5 separate regions of the Homo sapiens genome follow, and all the other regions are reported to be linked to region 2. Evidence: microRNA targets listed by miRTarBase, many of them from high-throughput screens and not tested one by one. Region 2 holds a microRNA gene; each other region holds the end of a gene's coding sequence.

What was found. The annotated mature microRNA hsa-miR-619-5p reads GCUGGGAUUACAGGCAUGAGCC and lies in region 2 at 2,220-2,241, shown strand. An mRNA with a match to its seed (bases 2 to 7 or 8) in the 3' UTR can be bound and repressed. Matches are read on the target gene's strand: a 7mer-m8 pairs with bases 2 to 8, a 7mer-A1 pairs with bases 2 to 7 and ends in A, and an 8mer does both.
Region 1: the mRNA of PTPN4 is a reported target of hsa-miR-619-5p. The part of its 3' UTR that is shown has no 7-base or 8-base seed match.
Region 3: the mRNA of ZNF707 is a reported target of hsa-miR-619-5p. The part of its 3' UTR that is shown has no 7-base or 8-base seed match.
Region 4: miRTarBase lists C15orf40 as a target of hsa-miR-619-5p. Seed matches in the 3' UTR shown: 7mer-m8 at 4,246-4,252, 7mer-m8 at 4,112-4,118, 7mer-m8 at 2,938-2,944, 7mer-m8 at 2,710-2,716, 8mer at 2,438-2,445, 7mer-m8 at 2,089-2,095 and 3 more.
Region 5: the mRNA of A4GALT is a reported target of hsa-miR-619-5p. Seed matches in the 3' UTR shown: 7mer-A1 at 3,944-3,950.

What each region holds. Positions count from the first base shown.
Region 1 is chr2:119,976,635-119,981,739 of GRCh38, forward strand. PTPN4 (protein tyrosine phosphatase non-receptor type 4) reads left to right here. Exons shown (of 27, transcript NM_002830.4): 27 at 350-5,105. The coding sequence ends at 436. Among named protein-coding and RNA genes, the nearest start is that of EPB41L5, 34 kb to the right of the region's middle.
Region 2 is chr12:108,834,098-108,839,202 of GRCh38, reverse strand. MIR619 (microRNA 619) reads left to right here and starts at 2,197; the gene lies at 2,197-2,295. All of the region lies in intron 2 of SSH1 (slingshot protein phosphatase 1), which reads left to right. RefSeq lists enhancers at 1-148, 708-837, 142-1,341.
Region 3 is chr8:143,693,509-143,698,613 of GRCh38, forward strand. It overlaps ZNF707 (zinc finger protein 707), which reads left to right. Exons shown (of 6, transcript NM_001100598.2): 6 at 163-1,877. The coding sequence ends at 1,022. LINC02878 (long intergenic non-protein coding RNA 2878) reads left to right here and starts at 3,607. Exons shown (of 2, transcript NR_015445.1): 1 at 3,607-4,133; 2 at 4,431-4,905.
Region 4 is chr15:83,001,305-83,006,409 of GRCh38, forward strand. C15orf40 (chromosome 15 open reading frame 40) reads right to left here. Exons shown (of 4, transcript NM_144597.3): 4 at 1-4,388. The coding sequence ends at 4,293. Among named protein-coding and RNA genes, the nearest start is that of C15orf40, 7.8 kb to the right of the region's middle.
Region 5 is chr22:42,688,561-42,693,661 of GRCh38, forward strand. A4GALT (alpha 1,4-galactosyltransferase (P1PK blood group)) reads right to left here. Exons shown (of 3, transcript NM_017436.7): 3 at 3,561-5,101. The coding sequence ends at 4,330. Among named protein-coding and RNA genes, the nearest start is that of A4GALT, 30 kb to the right of the region's middle. RefSeq lists enhancers at 1-184, 4,497-5,018.

The sequences.
Region 1 (5,105 bases), not on the chromosome of region 2:
GTTTCTTTTTCTGGTTTATTTTTTGGATAGATTCTTAGAAGTGGGATTGCTGGGTGAAGAGGTAAATTAGGTTAATTTTCTTATATGCTGCCAAATTCCCCTTTATAGAGGCTGCAGTATTTTAACATCCCTACCAGCAACATATAAGTGAGTTTTGCCAACAAAATATATTGCCAAACTGTATTTTTTAACCAGTCTAGACTGTTAGTGAAAAATGGTATCTTTATGCAGTTTTGTTTTGCATTTTTTAAGTAAGCAAGCCAAGTGAGATGTTTGTCTTTTTTGGGGGGAGAGGGGACGGTTTTCTGACTTTTCTGATCAGTTCTGTTTTTTATATTTTATTTTTCAGAGTCAATACAGATTTGTATGTGAAGCTATTTTGAAAGTTTATGAAGAAGGCTTTGTTAAACCCTTAACAACATCAACAAATAAATAAGAAAGCAAAAAGATCTGGGATATGTGTTGGAAAACTGCTTTCCCTTATGTTCACTGTGCCATAATGCTGCTCGCAGGAAATGGCATTTTACAAAAAAAAAATGAAGAACTCAAAAAAACTTTGAAAACTTCAGCACTGTTGCACTTTATGTTTTAAAAAATGTCACTCTTTCAAAATCTATAACTCATGTATTTGAAGACTGTTTCATGCTTTGCTCCGAACAAATAGTAAATAACTGAGTATGTTCAGGGTAATTTATGAAATTTTGTGGTGGTGCCATGCAATCCCCTTTTGGTAGAATTGCCACAAACAAGGCTCAAAATTCTCATCATCTCTGTTATACACCTGTATCATGAAAGCAAAAAGAAGTAAACATCAGGAGTCAGCTCTGGTCTTTTGCAGTGGTTTGCGTACTTACTATACTGATTACCAGATTTTATTTTTAAAATTTTAGCAATATCGTTCTTAATATTAGCCAATACACTGCCTATGGATGCAGCACATTTTTCCCTGCACACCCCCTGTAGAGACCTGCCTGCTGCTCAGAAGAAGAAAGATGGAATTTGCTGTTCCCAGGAAATGCTGCACATTGTCCATTTACCAGCATCTTATAGAAAATATAAATATGAATCTACAAATTCTCTTGGATTTAATAATGTAACTTATATTTATCATAAGGTTGGCTTATTCCAAATCATGTGATTTCACATACTTGATGTAAAGGAATGCATGCATTGTGTCTTAACCCCTTAAGTGCCTTGAGACGTCCTTGTATGTCTAACGAAAAGGCACTCATTTGACCCCACTAGGAGGTATATATGTATATTGTACATTCGTATATTTTTATGCATTTTGAATAAGTTCACATTTTAAAAAACAGCTATATTGAGTGTTATACAGTCAAAGAAGGGTAAGGAAATTCTGTTTCTTACTCAGTACTCGTGATTTGCTATAAGAAGCAAAGATAATTTGTGTTCTACTGAGTGCACACTGCTGCTATGGAATTGTTCAAAATCTGCACATTCCTTTACTTGAGGGACTGAGGGGTTACGGTTTAGCAGCTCAACTTTAAAAGATGCTTTTATGCTTCAAATTTCATATTTATTTCATCCCTAACTTTAGGAAGACATCTAACATGCAGATTAATGTTAAACATATTGATAATCTAAGCTAAAGTTAGAGCAAATAATTGTGATTTATTCATGTCCATAACTAAAATATTATTCTTTAGCACTCATTTCAGTTAATATCAAGCTTTGTTCACACTGATATATTGATTGGGATTCTTCAAACGAAGAATGAAACATTATTGACTTATTTCTAAGTGTAATAACTCAATAACTAAATTGAGAATTTTCTTGTTTTTTTGTGTACAATTAAATTATTCCATTTTATATATACTTATTAAGTTATAAGCATGTTAATAAGGAGACTTTTGACTGTCCAGCCTAATGGAGGATCTGATTCCCATTAAGGATGTGGGAATTCCCGTATTTTCCTCTTCAGGTTTTTTTGTTTTTAAGTCTACAGAGAGATAGAACCTTAACATTGCCCAGTTTGATAAAAGTGAAAATTTGCTCACCTATACAAATGTTATTTTACACAATTATTTTATGTGGATTGGGGTTTTAAAAGATTCATTTCCTAGCAGTTTCTGAATATTTCTGTAAGATCTTGATAAAGTTTAGAGTCAAATGGCAGATATTTTGGAAAGCCATTTAGTATGAGGGGAAGAGTACACATTTTAAATCTTTGGTATAATCTAAACGATGTCATTTCAGACATTCAAAACTCATAATAATAAATTTCAGGAAATCAAGCTCCTAAACATTAATAGCCAAGATACCAAATAAATTATCATATTAAAATATTTAAGTTTATTTAAAGAGAGAAGTAAACATAAACTTATGTCAAAGAGAAATTCTCTTAATCTATTTCCTGACTTCACAGTCAAAACAGTATAAGATAGTGAAGTAACTTATAATCTTATTTGGTCATTCTGTTCTATAAACAGACAAATATAATTTAGGCTGCTATATGACATGATAAATTAAAAACTGAGAAAGTAAAATTATGTCGGGGTCTACACATTAAATGACTGTTTTGGCAGTTTTTCACCTGAATTTAAAAATAAAATTTGTCTGTTCTATCTGTATGGACAGAATATGACAACCATAGACCAAAAGATATCATTGTATAGATGTAAAGAGACAAAAGTCATGGTTGGCATGTTCTTTAATTTAGGGCCTTGTTTATACTTGTGAGTTTAATAATTTCTTGGCAATGAGCACTGCTGCCTTTTTAAATCATCAATGCCTGTCTTTAAATGCCAATCATTAGAAGTTTAGAATTACATTTAAATTTCTCATATATGAATTTTTCATCTGGGAACTACCCACTGTCGTCATTTTTATGTGCAGAAAAGATCCTTTTTGAAAACCATATTTATTGGGATCTTATTTAAATTTAAATTATCCTTTACAACTTCTTAAAATGAATATGCTAATAGATAAGACTTTATCCATTACATCTAAGAACTTTTTAACCTGTATATCAATCTAAATAGGTTTCTAGAAATAATCCTAGCTTTCATACACCATGTAGTTCTAGACTCCGTCCATATCAGTGTAACATTGTGTGATAAAATGCCAAATGTCTTGTATCTAAGCTACGCTCCCACTCTTCCAGCCACCCCTACCTCCCACCTTGACACCCTTAAGAAAGCAATGCTGACTTTTATTCTGACAAGTGGAAATCAATAGTGGTTAATCAAGTGGATTTTGTAAATGCTAAGAAGTGTTTGTGAAAACCTTCCCTTTCTGAGTTAGGATTGTTTTTTCCTGTTCATTTCAGGTGTTTTATTGAGCATCTGATTTGTGTCAGCACCATGTAAATATGATGAGGAGTATTTGGAATAGACTTTACATTCACCAGAAAATTGATAGTATTTGTTAAACCAATGCATCCATTCAAAATAGAGGCAGAGTAAACAGCCTAAGAAATGATTTCCTTTCTACAGTCTGCTAGGAGAAAGAGGTGAGAGGGGAGTGGTTGATGATTTTAATCAAGAGTAAAGGGAACATTTATTACATGAAATCTGACTTCAGTTGTGCAAAGGTATGTTAAGACATTAAGACAATTGCTGGAAGGTTTCAAATATGTGTACACACACATAGAGCTACTTTTGTGTGTTTATTTATATGTATATTTCACAAAGGCTAATGCCCACAGAGGAAAATGATTATTTTAACTTCTGGGTTATCATCTGCTGGCAGGGTCTGATCAGGTCTAGAGTATTTAAGGAAAAGTCTCCTGTCTTCTATCTCCACTAGAAGTACTGCAGCTTGAGAGCTGAAAGGAACTTGAAAAATGTTATCCAGTCTTCACTTAGCCCATTTTTATCGGCATTAGGAAATAGGGTTCAGCAATGGTTATTGATTTAGCAGTCTGGTCTTATATGATCTGCTTTCTAATTATCTATCTAGTATTCCTATATTATACTGGAACTTCAATAAATTATAACCTATGTGAATATCATAAATTCTTGTGAATTTTTGTCTATTTCCAGTAGAGAAGCATACTCAGCCAATGTTTTCACTTAATAACTATGACAACCTTAAAGGATGTCACTTAAGTTAGAAAATAAGCAGGCTTAAGAAGTGATTCTAATTAGGACCCCCACTCAGTTTGCTAGTCATGCCTGCCTGACAGAACATAAGCTTTTGTAAAGTATTTAGACTGATAACACATGCAGTATGAAAACATTATAGACTGCAGTTAGAAGACTAATTTTTTAAAAGCACTCAAAACATAGAACTAAGATTTAGAATATATGTCCATTTATAATGAAATAATTTGTGTTCATAATGTGAACATGTAAGATAAGTAAATAAAGCATTACTTGTTTTATAATATCAGGAAGAGAGAAGGAAACATTAGTTTATAACAATGTGCTATTTAATATCTGTATTTTGAACATTTAAAATACTCTGATGGTAAGGTTGCCAAAGTAATTTTGAATTCATAAAAATTGTTTATACCACAATAATGTGGGATATGTTTACAGGCTCTTTTATTTTGTGGTAGTTACTTTATAGTTCAGATGAATTTGCATTTCAGTCACTTATAGTAAATAAAGTATATTAAATATTTGTTGGAATAAAAATCTCAATGTAATAGGACATAGATAAATTATGCAACAGCCTGCTTTGATGAAAGCTGGTGCATTATGTGAGCTGCCACAGTTAATACTTTGTATTAACATTGCTTACTTCCCCCATTTGCTTCACCTATCTGACTACAATTGCTGGAATCATTCTTTTTGTGGTGCTTCCTCCAAGTGAAATAACTATGTTATTAAAACCTACTGGATTAATTTTATCAAATATCAGACTTACTGATCTCTTGGCAGAGATTTATTGGTGTCTCAGTGTGATCACAATACAAGTTGTAGCAACCATTTTATAAAACTCTTAGAGAATTATGTAGATAAAATGGAAATTACATAATCCTAAAACATTTTTGAGGGCTAATTGATAATAATTTCAGCAATTTTATTAAGAACCCAGTAAATTAATCCCTAATTTGTATGTTTTTTGTTCAACTTACCGTGTCTGCAACCATTATATAGACTTCATTGATACTCAGCAATTACTACAGTGTGTCTTAC
Region 2 (5,105 bases):
ATGGAGGTGGTTTTTACTTAGCTATTGGCTTTTTCCATTCAGCCCATGTGTATTTAGTGCCTAAATATGGGTTCTTTGCCAAATGCCAGGGATTCTGTGTGGAGTCAAAAAGAGTCCTTATCCCTCAGGGGTAATGTGTGTTGTATCTACAGTAGTGCCCTCCAAAAAGGATTTGAAACACCTTACAACATTCATAGAGAACAATAGAATGTAACATTAGTGAGAAAATCGGGACACGAAGAAAGCAGAAGAAAATAAGATGAAGTAAGGGGAAGGTTTGTACATGTAATACATGACATAGCATTGGTATGGTTACCAGAATTTGGCCACAGATCTGACTTTGAGTTTCCTGGTAGTCAAAGCAAAGAGAGAAACAAGACCAATCTCTTGATTCTTGGTGTCCTGAAAATACCAGCAGATCAGTTCCTCGGAAGAACTCTTCCTGATAGATACCTGTGGTGTTCACAAGGAAGCCCAGCATAATGGATGGACAAGCAAGTTGTCTTAACAGGGAGAGCTGATGCTGCATGCCTATCCCACCAATTACCCTGGGTATTTGTGGTCTTAAGAGGTGAGGTCAGCAGCAGCACTTGGTGCCAGAGCTGCTGGCCGCCCCAGCACTGAGACAGGATGCTGAGTCACATCCTGCAGGGCTGCGGTATCCTGGCTTCGCGTGCCCTTCACAATAGGAGGCCTGCACGGGCAGGTCAGCCCCTGCTGTTCCAAACATGTGGTCTCCGAGCAGGAAAATGCTAAAATTAGATCTTACGTGGTCCAGAGCCGTGTATGTGAGAGGCCCTCAAAACCTGGACACACACAGACCAGGAAGACCTGGGAGAGCAGAGCTCTTCATCGTTCTCTTCTGCTCTGGGCACGAAACAGGGCCACTTCTGTTCTGGAAAACACGAAGAGGGCAAACAGTGCTGAGGCAGGGAAGGTCTTGCTTGGTGAGGGTAAAACTATGCAAGAGATGAAAGGGCAAAGTCATGAAATATGCCCATACCAGTGATCAGTAAAATCATCTGAAGCTTTTATTACCTACCGATAAAGAAAAATTACAGGTCGTGTTTTACCAAAATCGAATTAAGTGGAGATTTAAAAAATAACTTTAAAAAATTTGGCTGGGTATGGTGGCTCATGCCTATGATCCCAGCACTTTGGGAGACCGAGGTGGGAGGATCTCTTGAGCCTAGGAGTTCAGTACCAGCCCTGGCAGCATAGTGAGACCCTGTCTCTACAAAAAAATTAAAAAATTAGCTGGGGGTGGCAGCACACACCTGTAGTCCCAGCTACTTGGGTGGTTGAGGTGGAAGGATCGCTTGAGCCTGGGAGGTGGAGGCTGTGCTGCGTGAGCCGTGGTCGTCCCACTGCACTCCAGCCTGGGCGACAGAGTAAGACCCTGTCTCAAAGGAAAAAAAAAAAAATTGGTAACTCGAAAACTTGTAATGCTCCCAACACATACAAATGATTAATACTCAAGGTCATGGATACCCCAGATACTCTGACTTGGTCATTACACAGTTTATGCATGTAACAAATACTTACATGTTTTCCATAAATATGTAAAATACTACGTCGATAAAAAATTCTCGTTAATTTTGAGATAATTTCCAGCTTACATAAGAATTGCAAGTACAGTGAAAAGAACTTTCTTTTTTGAACCATTTGAAAGTAATTTGTCAACCTGCTACTCCATTACCCTTGGAATACAGACCAGGGCATTCTCCCACAGAACCGCAACACAGCCATCCACGCGGGACACTGACTCTGATGCATTCCCACCGTCTAGTCCTCTAACCCCATTCAAGAGTCACCATATGTCCCAGCGTTGTCCTTCATAACAAAAGATCCAATTCAGGACTGCCCATTGCATCTAGTTATCCTGTCTCTTGGCTCTCCTGCAGTCTGGAACCTTCCTCAGTCTTTCTTTGACTCTTGTGGCCTGGATTTTATTTTATTTTTTTATTTTTTGAGTTGGAAACTCACTCTGTCGCCCAAGCTGGAGTGCAGCGGTGATATCTCAGCTCGCTGCAACCTCCACCTCCCGGGTTCAAGCGATTCTTGTGCCTTAGCGCCCCAAGTAGCTGGGATTACGGGCATGCTCCACCACGCTCGGCTAATTTTTGTATTTTTAGTAGAGAATAGGGTGTTGCCATGTTGGCCAGGCTGGTCTCGAACCCCTGACCTCAAGTGATCCGCCCACCTCAGCCTCCCAAAATGCTGGGATTACAGGCATGAGCCACTGCGGTCGACCATGACCTGGACATGTTTGTGCCCAGTACTGTCAGTTTGCAGAGTGTCCCTCAGTGTGAGTGTGTCTGATGTTCTTGTGTGATTCCACCGGGCACGTGTATTTGGCTGGAACATCACCCAAGGGATGCTGCGTCCTCGTTGAATCCCATAAGGTGGCACTTGATTTCCTTTTGTCCCACTATGGTGACATTCACTTTGGTCACTAAGGTGGGTTTTACCAGGCTTTTCCACTGTACAGTTATTCTTTTCCCCTTCATCATTCAGAAGCATTCCTTGGAGAGATACTTTAAAATTATGTTAATATCCTGTCTGCCATCAATGTCCGTTTCAATTCTTTGTATTTTTCTGTTTTATTCAGTGGTTTATAATCTGCTCTTAAATTGTTGACATCCTTGCTCAAATTGTCCTTGTGGACAGTTAGGGCCAGTGGGATCTCATCCAGGCTGGCTTCTGTGTCCCTTTGACATGTCCACATCATTCTTTAAGTGCTTTCTTGCTTTCTGGCAACAGATGCTCCCTACCCACCTGTGGAATCAGTCCTTTATCCAAGGGGCTCTGGTTCCTTTTAGTGGAAAATGAAATTTAGGAGCCAAGCTAGGTCTGCTTATTGCTGTTGGGGTGTTGCTAACCACAGGCCTCTCAATGGGCAGAATTAGGGAACATTTGTATGTACGTGCATACACACACACGTGCATCTATATTTATTTCAATAGGTTGAAAACTATGAGTTCAGACTGGTACCTTCAATTCTGATGCAGCACCTTGGGGTTCATTCTAGTTTTGTCTCTCCATATTCATGACTCCCATTGTCCCTGAAATATTAATAAATATTAACATTATGCATATTATATAAACTTAGGTATTATTTATATTATATAGTATATATTTGTTAATATTGATTATATTAATATTAATATAATCGATTATATTAATATAGTTATAATCGATTATATTAATATAGTTATAATCGATTATATTAATATAGTTATAATCGATTATATTAATATAGTTATAATTGATTATATTAATATAGTTATAATTAATTATATTAATATAGTTATAATTAATTAATATAATATGTATATATGCTATATATCATAAATATATTAATTATAAATATTAATATTAACATTAATGTTTAATATTTCATTCCTTGCCTGTGAGCAGTCTCTGTCTCCCTTGCAGCCCCCTCCCTGCACAGATGCCCTTTGCACCCTGCTTGCCAACAGACACCTCAGCTTGGGATCCCACACCCCCTCCCCAACTCAGAAGCTTGCCCTGCCCTTCCCCGCCAAATGGTTTTTAGGTCTGAATTGTTGGGAGGAGAAGTGGACTTTTTTGAGACTGTTTTCCAGAGGTATCAGTTCAGCTGAAAGCCAGTGCCTAAGAGCAGAGGTTTCAGAGTTACACTCCTGCCTTCCCCTTCCTGCTTCCCGGCTCCTTGGTCTCATGAACTTGGGCAGGTGACTTAACCTCCCTGAGCCTCAGTGTTTGTTTGTTTTGTTTTCTGTTTTTTTGTTTTTTTAAGACGGAGTCTTACTCTGTTGCAGTGCTGTGGCACAATCTCGGCTCACTGCAACCTCCATCTCCTGGGTTCGAGTGATTCTTGTGCCTCCCAATAGCTGGGATTACAGGAGCACGACACCACGCTCGGCTAATTGAGCCTCAGTTCCCGTATGTATAAAACACTGAGAGATGGACACTGGGGAATAAATGAGTTAACATACCTGATGTGCTTAGCATAGCGCTCAACGAAGATGTTATTGGTGTTACATTTATTGATGTCCACTGTTTTCTGGGCACTGAGAGGGATCCTGAGACAGAGAAGTCATAGGCCTAGCTCTCCAGACACTCAAGGTGATGTGGGGAACTTAGCTGCTGTTGTGTTATTTGAAGCACTCAGTTGTCAGGAAGACCTGACCTGACCTCCAGGTGGCTTTAACTCGCACGTGGCATGATGCTGTGAGTCTTATTTGCCAGGTTCAACCTGTGTGTGGGGAGTGCCCAGTGTGCCCAGGGCACAGAGATGACCAGGGTGAGTTACTCCTGGAATACTGACTTCAGAGAAGAGCACAGCTTGGCCAGTGTATCTACCAGCACTTACTTTCAATCTACTGTATGTCAAGCACAGAGGGAGATTTAAAAAGCATGTGCATCCTGGCCCTCACATCCCATTGTGAAGTTAAAATATACTGGCAGGAAGATGGCTTCACCACTAGTTAGTAAATAAGTGGGTCAGGGAACACGATTTGGAAATGAGGGAACTTGGGTTCCTAGGTTCCTATCACTAAGGGTGGTCTTTCCTTCAGTATCCAAGGGGATTGGTTTCAGGACCCCCGCCTTTGCCGAGGATAACAAAATCCATGGATGCTTAAGCACCCGCAGAACCCACTAATTCAAAGAGTTCAGCATCCCTCAAATACTGTATTTTCTGTCTGTAGTTGGTTGAATCCACTGATGAGGAACCCGCGGATACAGAGGACCGACTGTATGTGACCTTGAGCAAGTGACTTAACCCTTAAGCCTCAGTGTCCTCACCTGCACAGTAAGAGGAGGTGCTAGAAGATGTTGAAAGGGAGGAGCTATAGCTCACAGCGAGGGCCACAAGAGAAAGCTTCCTGGAGAAGGCATAAACACTGGAAGACAGGCATGACGTCGGGAGGCAGATGGGAGGAAGGACACCATGAGCCGAGAACCACAGTAGGCTTTATGGGGACAGTGCTATAGCTGGGGATAGAACAGAGAATGCGAAGCATGGAGAACAGGGGGAATAGTGCGAGAGGTAATACAAGAATGGTTTTTTATTCTGAAATACTGTTTTCTAACTATATTCTAAGCCCCTAAGGTCAGGA
Region 3 (5,105 bases), not on the chromosome of region 2:
ATGGTCTCGATCTCCTGACCTCATGATCCACCCGCCTCGGCCTCCCAAAGTGCTGGGATTACAGGCGTGAGCCACCGCGCCCGGCCTCCTCTGGGCTTTGCTGGAGGCACTGCCTGGCTGTGGGCCACTGGCTCTGTGTAAGGGTGTCTGTTCCTTCCACAGGGGCAAGGAAGTCTGCAGACCCCAAGAGACCTTGTGATCATCCAGCTTGGGCTCACAAGAAAACCCACGTGCGGCGAGAAAGAGCCAGGGAAGGAAGCAGCTTTAGGAAGGGCTTCAGGCTGGACACGGATGACGGGCAGCTTCCCAGAGCTGCTCCAGAAAGGACAGACGCCAAGCCCACGGCTTTCCCGTGTCAGGTGCTCACGCAGCGTTGTGGGCGGCGGCCGGGCCGCAGAGAGCGCCGGAAGCAGCGCGCAGTAGAGCTGTCATTCATCTGCGGCACGTGCGGGAAGGCGCTCAGCTGCCACAGCCGGCTGCTCGCTCACCAGACGGTGCACACGGGAACCAAGGCCTTCGAGTGCCCCGAGTGCGGCCAGACCTTCCGGTGGGCTTCAAACCTGCAGCGCCACCAGAAGAACCACACGCGCGAGAAGCCCTTCTGCTGCGAGGCCTGCGGGCAGGCGTTCAGCCTGAAGGACCGCCTGGCTCAGCACCGCAAGGTCCACACCGAGCACAGGCCCTACTCGTGTGGCGACTGTGGGAAAGCCTTCAAGCAGAAGTCCAACCTTCTCAGACACCAGCTGGTGCACACCGGGGAGCGGCCGTTCTACTGCGCGGACTGCGGCAAAGCCTTCCGGACCAAGGAGAACCTCAGCCACCACCAGAGGGTCCACAGCGGGGAGAAGCCCTACACCTGTGCCGAGTGCGGCAAGTCCTTCCGGTGGCCCAAGGGCTTCAGCATCCACCGGAGGCTGCACCTGACGAAGAGGTTCTACGAGTGCGGCCACTGTGGGAAAGGCTTCCGTCACCTGGGGTTCTTCACGCGGCATCAGAGGACTCACAGGCACGGGGAGGTGTAGGGGCGCCCGAAGAGTGGGGTGCTGCGCCTCTGCGGGAGTACTGGGTCCTGAGGGAGAGCTGCAGTGAGAAGTTGCTCTTCAGCCTGGAAAATCAACCTGAATTCAGAGAAGCCTTCTTAGTCCTCAGAGCTCCCCAGTCCCCCGAGAAGTTTACTGGGAAAACTGCCAGGTGGGAGAAGCAGAGCCATGGGTACGCCGGAGATGGCGGGGGCTCTGGAGATGGCGGGGGCTGCGCCCCGGCGCCGGGCATCCTGGGGATGTGCTGAGAGTGTGCGCGACCCCGGAGCCACGTGCCAGGCCGGGCTCAGAGGCGGAGAAGCCTGCCTGGTGCCCACAGCCGTCTGGCTCAGGGACTCCACCCTGGCCCCGAGTCGCCGTCTGCTGGGCCTTTCCTTCCTGGCTCTGCACCCCATGCTGGCTGCCCGGTCTGGCTTCCCTTCTTGTCTCTGTCTTGGGCGAGGCAGCTGTGAGCATTGCACAGAGGCAAAGACCCTCCTGCAGCCTCTGCGCTGGGCCGTAGAAACAAGAGCCTTTGTAATACTGAACCTCATTCAAGGATTAGGAGTGGTGGTTAGGTCAGGGCCACCCCCAGTGCTGCAGGAACGGCCTCCACCCAGCTCTGTTGGTCAGAGCCTGGGTCATGCACCTGGAGTTGGGAGATCAAGTTGGGTCTCAGGGCAGTGAGGTGGCCATATCCACCACATCGCATTTCGTGGGGGAAGAGGTGACCTCTTTGTTTTAAACTTAAGGTGTCTGCTTATCCAGCCAGAAATAAAAATCTGCCAGTGGTGTTCCCAAGGGAAGACCCCCGTGGGAATGGGTCGGGACACTGCCGTGTTTCAGGTTAGCCAATTATTTTTGCTTTTGCCTGTTTTTCTTTAAGAATTGCAGCCAGGCCAGGCGTGGTGGCTCACGCCTGAAATCCCAGCTACTCGGGAGGCTGAGGCAGGAGAATCGTTTGAATCCGGGAGGTGGAGGTTGTGGTGAGCCAAGGTTGCGCCATTGCACTCCAGCCTGGGCAGTAAGAGTGAAACTCCGTCTCAAAAAAAAAATTCCAGCCAACAGATGCATATGTAATGTTGGAATCAGAAACGAGTTTACAAGAAATAGGGGGATGAGGAGAAGGTTGAACACACCGAGAGGAAGCCCTGAGCCAGATCCGGCTGGAGATGCCACCAGACGGCGACGTTTCTGTGGGAAGACGGGCACGCAGAAAGGCCGAGGGGGCTGTGTGTGACCCTGGTAGGAGCAAACCGAGTGCGAAGTCACTTTTGAGACAATCATGGAAATGTGGGCACGGGCCGTGAGTCGGGTGGGTAGGCCGTGAGTCGGGTGGATGGACTGAGTCGGGTGGGTGGGCCGTGAGTCGGGTGGATGGACTGAGTCGGGTGGGTGGGCCGTGAGTCGGGTGGATGGACTGAGTCGGGTGGGTGGGCCGTGAGTCGGGTGGATGGACTGAGTCGGGTGGGTGGGCCGTGAGTCGGGTGGATGGACTGAGTCGGGTGGGTGGGCCGTGAGTCGGGTGGATGGACTGAGTCGGGTGGGTGGGCCGTGAGTCGGGTGGATGGACTGAGTCGGGTGGGTGGGCCGTGAGTCGGGTGGATGGACTGAGTCGTGTGGGTGGCCGTGAGTCGGGTGGGTGGGCTGTGAGTCGGGTGGGTGGCCGTGAGTTGCGTGGTGGGCCGTGAGTTGCGTGGGTGGGCCGTGAGTCGGGTGGGTGGGCCGTGAGTCGGGTGGGGGTGCGGAATTGGCTGCTAGCGGTGATGGTGACACAGGGTTACGGAGGAATCCTCACTCAGATGCATTTGGACGTCTTTGTGGGGAAATGACGTGGCGCCTGGGATGTACTTTACGATTCTAATAAAGAGGAGAAAGACACAACAGTATTGGCTGAATGTTGACAGCTGTTGAAGCCGGGAGGTTGGTGTGCTTAAAAGTTCCCCAAATCTTTTATTTGCAGCATGAGTATGAGTTTCTTCGTGCTCACGGAAGATTGTAGAGAGCAGCTGTCGGTCATGGAGTCACAGGGCTGCCTTACCAGGACACCACCGGCAGCCCCACAGACAACACAGGTTTATTCTCTCCAGCTCTGCAGGCTGGAAGTCCGAGGTAGAGGTGCCAACAGGGTCCGTTTCCGGCGAGCGCCTCCTGGTTCAGAGGCATCCTCATGTCAGGAGGGGCTTTGGTGTCACCTTTTCCTTGTGAGGGCCCGGATCCCATGACCCCTATCACCCCATCGAAGCCAAATCACCTCCCAGAGACCTCCTCATACCATCACGTCGGGCCTAGGGCTTCCACATGGGAATTTCAGAGTGACCATTCAGCCCGTAGCAGAAGCTCCTCTGGGTCTGTCCTGGCCCACAGACCCTGTGTAGGAAAAGCACTTGCCCCTGCGGGGCAGGCCCTGGCAGAGCCCGGTGAGGCAGTGAGGGCCCTGCAGGATAAGTGGAAATCTCCCCAGGGGGGATATGGGGGTGCCTTTCTCTTACAGAGTCCAGGCTGGTAAAAGCGCATGTGTGTTTCGTGTCTGGTTTGTCCCCTGCCCAGCGGGCGCCGTTGGAAGGGCCTTCAGGTGCTTGAGCACAGGTGGGGACGGAGCAGCTGGTGTCTCGGCAGTAGATGCGGCGGATCATAAGGACTTGGGTTTTGAGCGCCCTGCAGGAAGCCACTGGCCGCGTCCAGGGTCACCTGTGCCTGGTCGTTAGTCCCTCACAATGCTGTCACTTTGTGACGCTCTTGTGCAGGATTAAATGTGAACAGCAGAGACGTGGGTGATGCGCTGCCTCGTCAGATGATGGTCAGTTGTCCAAGCGGGCTGCCTTGCTCTTGGTGGCCTCATCATCCAGGGCTCACACACTGGATGGTTGGGCCACAGTCGCGGTACCCCCCGGGCTGCAGGCTTTCCACCCTGCTTAGCAGGGCTCCAGGGCTCCGGGTAGAGCAGGGGGTCCCTCCCTTGGCACTTCCCCAGGGAGGAGCACGACCGTGCTCAGCTGCGGTCAGGCTGCTGCTCTTAGTTGTCTTTCCTTCTAACACTCAGGCTTCCCTTCCTGCCTCCTGGGTCGCTGAAGAAGGTCAGGTCCACAGAAAAGGCCTGGGGAGAGAATGGTGGTGAGGAGCCCATGGGGGTGTGAGGGGCCGGGAGGCTCTGCATCTTGCCCTGTTGGCCTCCTCACCACCCAGGCGGGGGTGGGGTGACAGAAGGGGCTCACAGCAGGTGTCCCGTAAGGAGCATCTTCCTTCCTGGGGCCAGCAGCCGTCACTCCCTGTGAGCCTGTAGAGCCGAGTTTTCTCTGCATTTATCTTGGGCAGAGAATGCATGAAGCTACTTCGCGGCCAGAATGGGTGCACAGCAGGGTCCGTTGACAGCCATGCCTGTGACCTAGCCTTCCACCCCTCTGTCTCCAGGGGACACTTGCCTGGCCTTTGTGTTAGCGCTCAGCACACATGTGTCCAGTGTAAAGTCCACCAAGATTAGCAGGGCATGGTAGCTGCCGCCTGTAATCCCAGCTTCTCAGGAGTCTGAGGCAGGAGAATTGCTTGAACCTGGGAGGCGGAGGTTGTAGTGAGCCAAGATCGTGCCACTGCACTCCAGCCTGGGCGACAGAGTGAGACTCCATCTCAAAAAAAAAAAAGTCCGTCGAGAGAGCAGGTGGCGGATGCAGCTGAGAGCTCCAGGAATGGGAGGGCCACGTGGTAGCCACTGGCAGCCTTGACTGAAAGATGAAGGAGTCCATGGTGCTAGGAGGAGGAGTTGCATCCCAGCAGGCTCAGCTCCTGGAGCTGCCTCTCTGCACTCTGAAGGGAGGCCCAGTGGCTGCAATATTCTTCTTTGGGAAGTACAATGCCAAGTAAATAAAGATATTTGGGGTCATTCTAGTTACAACGTATCATAAACTCTACTCACTGTTGTTCTGGGTGTTCATGGGGTCCGCCGTGCGTACCAGTCTTACAGGTCCTCAAACCCATTGGGACCCTTCAAACGAAGAGTGTGCGTGTGGAGTTGGCAGAACCTGACCCGGGCCAGGGTGGAGGGACAGCTGCGTCACTGAGTGCATGTCCAGCCCTAATAGCTCGCTTCGT
Region 4 (5,105 bases), not on the chromosome of region 2:
GTCTGTCAAGTAAGCAACCAAGTTAATAAGTGATTAATACATCATGTTTGCACAAGTAATTATCATTTATTAAGGTGCGGGTGATAGATGACAGATGCAGTGCTAGAACATCATATGTCGGCATAGTTGGATAAATATTTTTCAAACCTTATTCATAGGCTGCTTCAAATCCAGGATTCTCAGGACAGCACAGGACAAGAAAGACAGTGTAATCAAGTCACTATAGACTGCCTAGCCAGTACTCACTTGAAATTAATGGGAGTGAGCAAAGCTAGAACCATGTCATTAGACAAATGTTACGGAGGCTGAATATTTTGTGTCTTGGGCACTAGGTCACTGGGTCTACTTCAGTATTTACAGGGGAATACCAGGGCCCAGATGATGAAAAGTACATTAACTGAGCTTCTACAGCAGGTCAAGGTGCCCAAGCCTTAGCTGTGATCTCTTAACAGTAGGAATAGTCCTGTGTGAGACAATTAAGTTGTGAGGCTGCTGTAGACTATCTTGTTTGCAGTGGGGAAAAGGGAATCGTGTTCTGGGAATACAGCCCCTGGGCCAGTTCCTACCTCCAACAGTAGTTTGTTTTGTTTTGTTTGTTTCTGTTTTTTTGTTGTTGTTATTGAGACAGAGCCTTGCTCTGTCACCCAGGCTGGAGTGCAGTGGTGTGATCCCGGCTCACTGCAGCTTCTGATTCCCGGGTTCAAGCAATTCTCCTGCTTCAGCCTCCCAAGTAGCTGAGATTACAGTCATGTACCACCACGCCCAGCTAATTTTTGTAATTTTTAGTAGAGGTGGGGTTTCACCATGGTGGCCAGGCTGGTCTTGAACTCCTGACCTCAGGTGATCCACCCACCTTGGCCTCCCAAAGTGCTGGGATTACAGGTGTGAGCCACCATGCCCGGCCCCAAAGTAGTTTTTGATGACAGAGTGTCCCCATATCTTCTTTGTTACAAGATACTGCTACGTTTCTCAAAGAAAAAAACTCACTAGGCAAAATGTTCCCACGTTTAAAATATCACCGTTTAAAATGAAGTAAATAGGTTATCGTAGTAGAAACTGGTGGTTCCTCTCCAGCATCCATTCCTCTCTTTGTAACTTTTCCCAATTTTATTCAGGTATCCAACTCTCTCTACTTCTTTGCTTCTGAGTATGCTGACCCCATTTCCACCTCTAGGATGGGCCTTAATTGGCCTGAAACAATTAGGGTAATTCTTTCTTCTATAGTTACTGCTTTAGGGAACTTGTGTTATAGAATGGCATTCCCTGATCACAGGGGCTGGCTTAGAAATTTCATGTGACTTGATTTGGGCTGATACAAGGGAAGGCTGACTGAAAGCTTCTGGAAAATACCAGAGCTCCTAGGAGTGGCCTTTTCTCCTACTGCAGGGGTTGATACGTGAATATGAAACCTGGTTGGCCTTTTGTCTACATGAAACAAGTGGGCCTGAGGATGAAACTGGCACTGCAGAAGATTCAGGGGAAGGAAAGAAAGCTGATTTTTTTTTTTCTTGAGACGGAGTCTGCCTCTGCAGCCCACGCTGGAGCGCAGTTCGCAGTTGTGCGATCTTGGCTCACTGCAACCTCTGCCTCCAGGGTCCCGGTTCACAAGCAATTCTCCTGCCTCAGCCTCCCGAGTAGCTGGGATTACAAGCATCTGCCACTATGCCCAGGTAACTTTTGTATTTTTAGTAGAGACGGGGTTTCACCATGTTGGCCAGGGTGATCTTGAACTCCTGACCTCGTGATCTGCCTGCCTCGGCCTCCCAAAGCGCTGGAATTACAGGCGTAAGCCAACACGCCTGACCAAAAGTTGATCCTTTTTTTTTTTTTTTTTTTTTGAGATGGAGTTTCGCTCCTTTTGCCCAGGCTAGAGTGCAATGGCACGATCTCAGCTCACCGCAACCTCCAACTCCCGGGTTCAAGCGATTCTCCTACCTCAGCCTCCCGAGTAGCTGCAATTACAGGCATGTGCCACCACGCCCAGCTAATTTTTTGTATTTTTAGTAGAGATGGGGTTTCTCCATGTTGGTCAGGCTGGTCTCGAATTCCCGACCTCAGGTGATCCACCTGCCTTGGCCTCCCAAAGTGCTGGGATTACAGGTGTGAGCTACCATGCCCGGCCAGGAAAGTTGATCTTTTATGATATCATTTTATGACATTCTAACAGTGATCCATGTAAAATCCACAAGTAAAACGGCTTTACAGCACACATGGCAATGGTCTTGAGAAAGAGTGGGAAAAGCTCTTAAGACCATGTAAAACAGAAGCACATTTGCAGGCAGTATATGGCACAGTTTAGAAGACAAAGCAGCTGGGCTTAAACCAAGCTCTGCCATTAATGTGCACTGTGATCTCACATAAGCCACCTTTTCTTGCCCTTGATACCTATTTGGTACAAGTTAAGAGTTGTACTAGACGAGTAGCTTCTCTTTCACTGTCTGGGATTTTTTCTTTCTTTTTGAGACGGAGTCTCACTCTTGTCGCCGAGGCTGGAGTGCAGTGGCACCGTGTGGGCTCACTGCAACTTCCGTCTCCTGGGTTCAAGCAATTCTCCTGCCTCAGCCTCCCGAGTAGCTGAGATTACAGGCACCCACCACCATGCCTGGCTAGTTTTTATATTTTTAGTAGAGATGGGGTTTTACTATGTTGGCCGGGCTGGTCTCAAACTCCTAACCTCAGGTGATCCACCCGCCTCGACCTCCCAAAGTGCTGGGATTACAGGCATGAGCCACCACACCCGGCCTGGACTTCTTATATATGAGGTCTTATATATAATCTTACATATAAATATATATATCTATGTATAAAATCTATCTATGTATATCTATCTATCTATAAAGAAAGAGACAGAGACAGATACAGGGTCTCACTTCGTTGCCCAGGCTGGTCTCAAACTCCTGGGCTCAAGTGTTCCTCCTGCCTCAACCTTCCAAAGCGCTGGGATTACAGGCGTGAGCCACCAAGCCCAGCTACCATCAGCAATTTTTATTATTGTTCTTCCTTGTGGATTTTGTTTTTAATGATTTGGTCCATCAATACATCTTTCTCATGTACTTGCTGGACAAAGCGCACAACTGCAGATCAGCTCTCCTGATCAGCAAAGGAAATTAATTTTATTTTCTTTAATAAATTACTATAACTTGACCTGAAGATGTAAAAATATATTATTAGCTTTTGAAACTTTAATATAGATGTAATTTCTGACAAGCTTTTACAAATACTGAAAATAGCTTCCAAGTCCTCTTTCTTCTTTTAAGGATCTTTGGAGATTCATAAAAACTACTGAATTTGCTGATTATTTAAGTTATTAGAGGAAGATGAAAATTCAGTGACTTCTCAAAAATTATAATTCACATTTAATTACAAGTCATGATTTTTCTTTACTTTTTCAACAAAATGGTAAATATAGTCTTTAAAAGATGTAAAAAAAAAATTTTTTTTACATTTAAATAAGCATTTAAAAATCTAAGGTAAGACTACAAAGCAGCATAACAGGTTTTCTGTCACTTGTAAACTGGATTAGAAGGCAATCCCCAGAATTCCAGAACCGTTGTGGAGATATGATTTTTAATTTACAATCTAGAAAAACTGCATTCAACAAGTAGTCCAAGGATTTGGGTTCTAGTTGCCAGCTTGCATGGTACAATCTTGAGTAAGTCTCTCAACTTCTGGATATAGGAAATCAAAGGCCCCCCAACAGAATGAAAGGTGTTAAATCAGGTCATCTTGAATATTCTTCCCAGCTCTGTTATTTTACAACGCCATGAAATCAGAGTAACATGTTCCAGGCTGTTTGGGGTTTGGGATTTTAGAACCTGATGCAATGTATAGCACTTTTTAAATTTCTACTTTTTGGAGTCTTATTCGAATATATACATATATATATGTCCCCCATGTTCTTCTGTGCATGTAGTATATTTTTCTATTTAACAGCCTCTTCACCATTAGCAATAAAAAAGTTTCTCAAGGATGTATTTTTTATTTCTTTTTTTTCGGGGGGAGAGAGTTTCACTCTTGTTGCCCAGGCTGGAGTGCAACGGCGCGATCTCGGCTTACTGCAACCTCCGCCCCCCAGGTTCAAGTGATTCTCCTGCCTCAGCCTCCTGAGTAACTGGGATTACAGGCATGCGCCATCACATCTGGCTAATTTTGTATTTTTCGTAGAGATGGGGTTTCACCATGTTGGTCAGGCTGGTCTCGAACTCCTGACCTCAGGTGATCCGCCCACCACGGCCTCCCAAAGTGCTGGGATTACAGGCATGAGCCACTGCGCCCGGCCTCATTTCTTGCTTTTATGTTTTTTTGGCTTCCTTTTTTAATTTCTCCAAGATCTCTTCTGGAGTTGTAGAAGCCAAAAGCTTCACCACCTTTTCACGAGATTTACCACCCTGGACCAAAAGAGAAAAAGCATACTTTACTGTTTAGCACATTCTAATGCTATTAGAGATAGCAGACCTCCGTTGTATAATGGGCTCTCCTGATGGCTTTCTCTTGGTTACTTCTGGTCTAACCAAAGACTATCTCTTAGATTCTTCCTTACTACCATTTGTTACTAAACATTTGTTAGTACTAACAACTCTCCAGGGTTTTTACCTTCATACATCAATTTCTATAATAAAAGCTGGACATTAAAATCTCAAAAATGGGCCAGGCGCGGTGGCTCACGCCTGTAATCCCAGCACTTTAGGAGGCCAAGGTGGGTAGATCACGAGGTCAGGAGTTCAAGACCAGCCTGACCAACATGGTGAAACCCCGTCTGTACTAAAAATACAAAAAATTAGCCGGGCATGGTGGCATGTGCCTGTAATCCCAGCTACTCAGGAGACTGAGGCAGGAAAATCGCTGGAACCCAGGAGGCAGAGGCTGCAGTGAGCTGAGATCGCGCCACTGCACTCCAGCCTGGGCAACAGAGCAAGACTCCATCTCAAAAAAAAAAAAAATCTAAAAAATGATATTCTAGTCTCAAGCAATTAAGTTAAAAATGAAAATCATCTTTAAAATACCAAAATAAATATTGCAATTTTATATAAACTTTGTAGTAAAATAATTATAAATATAAACAAATTGCTATTCTCTATGTTGTTAAACATTTCTGAAAATTCCAA
Region 5 (5,101 bases), not on the chromosome of region 2:
GGGAAATGTAATCAGATCCTCAGAGCAGCGGTTTGTTCCTGGCTTGTTTCTAGTGGGTGTGTTCACAGACGTTTTTGGCCAGGACTGAGAAAGACGTGGACCTATCCTTTACTGGGGGAGCACTGCGTGGCCTGGGGCCGGTGTCCAGTCGGTTATTTAAGAATCTTCCCAGCTGGCCAGGCATAGGCAAGCAGGGAGTCGTTTTCCCAGCAGCTCTAGGGGAAGGAAAATAATTCCCCCTTGCTGGTGTATCAATATTCAACTTCTTGTTTAAATATTAAATTGTAATGTCCTCTGAGTGCCCAACAGAGATCGGGGATGAGTGAGCCCCCGTGTTCCTGGAAGTCTGGTTTCATGGTTCACTTGTTCCTAAATCTCTGCTTGTTCTAACTTGGACTAGCCCAGTGCAAGGCGTGCTCGGAATTCTGCTGTGAGGTTGGGGGTCAGGGTGGGACCAGGCTTCAGGCCCTGGACTCAGGTGTGATCTGTGCTGCGGTGGGGTTGGGGGAGGAGGAGCATCCCCTTCCAGGGTGGGTGTGGCGGCAGCAGCAGCAGCAGCAGCAGGAAACCAAGGGGAGGTGAGACGTGAGACATTCCTCCCAGCTTTAGTCCACTGCCAAAAATCAGAACCCAGCCCCGGTCCCCACCAACTTCCAAGGAGAGAAACGAGACCAGGCCAGGCACGGTGGCTCATGCCTGTAATCCCAGCACTTTGGGAGGCCAAGGTGGGCAGATCACCTGAGGTCAGGAGTTCGAGACCAGCCTGGCCAACACAGTGAAATCCTGTCTCTACTAAAAATACAAAAATTAGGCCAGGCACGGTGGCTCATGCCTATAATCCCAGAACTTTGGGAGGCCGAGGCGGGCTGATCACCTGAGGTTGGGAGTTTGAGACCAGCCTGACTGACCAACATGGAGAAACTCTGTCTCTACTAAAAATACAAAATTAGCTGGGTGTAGTGACGCACACCTGTAATCCCAGCTACTCGGGAGGCTGAGGCAGGAGAATTGCTTGATCCCGGGAGGTGGAGGTTGCGGTGAGCCGAGATCGCGCCATTGCATTCCAGCCTGGGCAACAACAGTCAAACTCTGTCTCAAAAAAAAAAAAAGAAGATTGTTTCTGTCTCACATTACAGTCCCAAGGTGAGTGCTCCAAGGCCACTGGGGCCACTCTGCCACCCCCAAAATGTGCCCTGCAAAGCACTCCAGCTGCTGCCATGCTCCAGCCAGTGGGAAGCGGGTTAGAGTGCCCAAAGCAAATGTCTTTAAGATCATCCATGAGTTGCCCGCATCACTCCTGTTCACATCCCATTGGCCTGGACTTAGTCACATGGCCACAGCCAGCTGCCAAGGGGAGGTGCTATGTCTGCCTAGAACTCGCTGTGTTCTTTTTCTAAGGACCACAAGAAGAATGGACACTTGAGGATGGTAAATAGCATCTAACACACGAGACAAGGAGTCGGGATAGGGCGCTTTCAGGGTTGGTTAATTCAGCAGCTCGCTGAGGTCTTCATGTCTTCAAGGATGCAGTATGGTGACATTTGATCTCAGACTTGTCCCCTCACGGCCTCAAGATGGCTGCCATTGCTTGGAGCATTACACCCTTTTGCCAAATGCAGAAATGTTGCTTTCTTGTCTATGAACATTTTCTCAGAGCCCTCTTTTCCAGCTGACTTGCCCTCTCATTGGCCAGAATAGCATTATATGCCCATTTCCACTCAAATTACTAGGAAGGGACTGGAATGACTAGGACTGGCTTAGACCAAAAGAGATTCACCCCCAGGCCTAGGGAGGGCCCACTTCCTCTACAGCCCTAAGCTACCTGAGGGTTGAACAAACTTGGGGTTTCCTTAGCAAGAAAGAAGCGGGAGGAGAATGGCCGTGGATAAGGAGTCAACAGCATCCTCCCTGGGAACTGGCACTTCCTACCCACCTCTCTGCCCTAAGCAGACATTTATGCACATAATTTCATAATTTCCTTTTTTTTTTTTGAGATGAAATCTCAGTCTGTCACCCAGGCTGGAGCGCAGTGGTGCGATCTTGGCTCACTGCAAACTCCGCCTCCCGGGTTCAAGCAATTCTGCCTCTGCCTCCCGAGTAGCTGGGACTATAGGCGCCCCAAGTCATGCACAGCTAGTTTTTGTATTTTTAGTAGAGATGGAGTTTCACCATATTGGCCAGGCTGGTCTTGAACTCCTGACCTTATGATCTGCCTGCCTCAGCCTCCCGAAGTGCTGAGATTACAGGCATGAGCCACCGTGCCCGGCCTTTTTTTTTTTTTTTTTTGAGACGGAGTCTCGCTTTTGTCAGCCAGGCTGGAGCACAGTGGTGCGATCTCGGCTCACCACAACCCCTGCTTCCCAGGTTCAAACAATTCTCCTGCCTCAGCCTCCCGAGTAGCTGGGATTACAGGTGCCCACCACCACACCTGGCTAATTTTTGTATTTTTAGTAGAGACGGGGTTTCACCATGTTGGCCAGGCTGGTCTTGAACTCCTGACCTCATGCTGGCACCGAGTAGGCACTCACTGTATGATGGTCAAATGACTAAACAATGCTGGACTCTAAAAGGTCATCTCACTTGTTCACATACATATATAGTTAGGATATGATTTGTATTATTTAAGTAAAACCTGCTCATTTGAAATGCTGCTGTGGCTGGAGAAATCACTGACTTAACAATCCTTTGTATTCATCAAAAACAAAACCTGGGCCAGGTGCAGTGGCTTACCTGAGGTCAGAATCGCTTGAACCCGGGAGACAGAGGTTGCAGTGAGCCGAGATGGGGCCACTGTACTACAGCTTGGGTGACAGAGCGAGACTCTGTCTCAAAAAAAGAAAGAAAGAAACCCAAGAAAACGACACATAACCTGCTCTTGAATACTCCTAAGAGCCAGGGAGCTCACCTCCTTCCCACGCTGCTCAAGACGGTCTGTGGGCAGAAAACGGAGGCCAATGAATGCCTCCCCCTTCAGCTGCCAAAAAGCAGCCTGCTGGGCCCCAGTGTTCCTGGCAGCACCCCCAGTCCTGGTGGGGAACGCCTAGGCAGCTTCCACAATGCAAACCAGCTGGGGTCTCGCCCTGCGGGGAGCAGATATTCCTATGGCCCAGTCCTGGAGCCGCCCACAAGGCACTTCAGGTCCCTCCCGGGATTTCAGCCACAGGCCCTCACAGCTCCCTCACTGGGACCTCTCCCTGGATGGGTGGCAGCTCAGCCCTGCTCCGGCGGTGGGCTCCTCAGTGTCCACATTTGGTCCCATTTATGTTAAACAGATTCAGGCTTGTCATGGGGGGAGTTGTGCTGGTGGGACCCAACCTTCCGTGTTTGTGAGCCTTGAAAAAGGAGGAGGGAAAAACAGGCTCCCCCCATTCCCCACTGCGGGGGCTCTCCATCACCAGGGACACTGGGGCTATGAGCCAGGTCCCGAGCCCTTCCGTGCTGGGCAGGTTGTGAGACCTTGGCAAAGTCACCACCAGTCCACCCAGTGGATTCCCCGTCAGAAGAATGGAGCGGAGGAGGCTGTGAGCCTGAACACACTTCACCAATCACAAGGCCCGAAGTGACAGTCGGTCACTTTTATTCTATTGATTATTCTCCTGTGTTTATAATGCGGGCGGCAGGGTGGGGGTTTCTTTAAAATGCTTCTCCTGAGCCTAAAGAGCCTCCCCACCCAGCCCCTGTCTGAGGGAAGGGGCAGAGCATACACGCCCCCCTGGCATCTCTGGAGAGGAAGAAGGATGGGGTGGGCAGAAGGGGCTGCCCCCAAACGGCTCCCCAGGCTGGCACTTCTGGGCCTCTGCCCCACTCAGTCCCTGTTGACCTCCCCCACCCCCCGCGAAAGAGGAACCAAAACCAGAAAAGAACAAAGCATCCTCCGCCCCGGACCCTTGGGGCTGGGTCTCCCCCAGCCCTGCCACTTTCCTACCAACAGCCTCCTCTCCTCTCTGGGAATCTTGTCCCTTCTTCCCCATCCCCTTAGCACCGGCCTCTGCCCTCGTGGGCACCTCTGTCCCAACTGCCTGGCTTTCCGCACCACCTGGGGGTGCCCTGAGGTTCATCCTTCCTGCCTGTTGTCTAGAAGGCCCGGGGCACTCACTGAGCGCCCTCCGCTGGCTATGGCACCATGTGTCAGCCCTGCCTCGAGACAGGACACTGTCCTCGGGGTGTCCACAGCCTCCCACTGGGCCTGCTCCCACAGCTCCTCAACAGCCTGCCTAAGCCCGGTGGCAGCTCGGGCCTCCCTCTCCCGGGCCCTCAATCTTGCCTCCCCGGGAAGGGCGGCCCAGTGCCCCATCAGGAGCAGGTTGGGGAGGTGACCTGGCGGGCCCCTCACAAGTACATTTTCATGGCCTCGTGCGTCGTGGGGCAGTAGCGGGCATGCAGCTGGGCCAGCAGTGCCCTGGACGTGGCCTCGAACCGCGTGCCCTGGCTCTTCTTGTTCCACACGTGGACAGCATAGGTGGCACTGAGCAGCCGCGGCAGCTCCTCGGGGTTGATGTCCTCAAAGTACTTCTTCCAGTCCTGCCAGGGGATGGGGTAGAAGGCCTCAGGGGGCAGGGTGGTGACGCCGCGGCAGGCGCGGCTCTCGGCCAGGCTGCGGATGGAACACCACTTCTTGAAGACCCGCGTGAGCAGCTGCGGGCCCTGGTGACCCCAGATCCAGCCGTTGTAGTGGTCCACGAAGTCCCGCATGCACAGCGCCATGAACTCGTGCCGGCGCTCGAAGGCCAGGAACGCGCCGTTGAGGACGTAGCGGGACTGGGTGCCCAGCACGTTGGTCAGGTTCCGCAGGTTCTTGAGAACAATGAAGTCCGTGTCCAGGTAGATGCCGCCGAACTTCCACATGAGTGCGATCCTGGAGGCGTCGGAGAGCACGGGCAGCAGGTAGGGCTCCCAGCGCCCCTGCACGGCCGCGTACCAGTCGGCCAGGGGTGTGTCCCGGAACAGCTCCCGCAGGTCCAGCGGGAGCATCTGGACATTCGGGAAGCAGCTCAGAAGTGAGATGCCCAGGTGCCGGGGCAGAGAGGCGTTGCCACCCGGAAGCCCTTTCATCAGGACCAGCACGTGGGATTCGGGGTGAGTTCTGGCGGCCGACTCCACC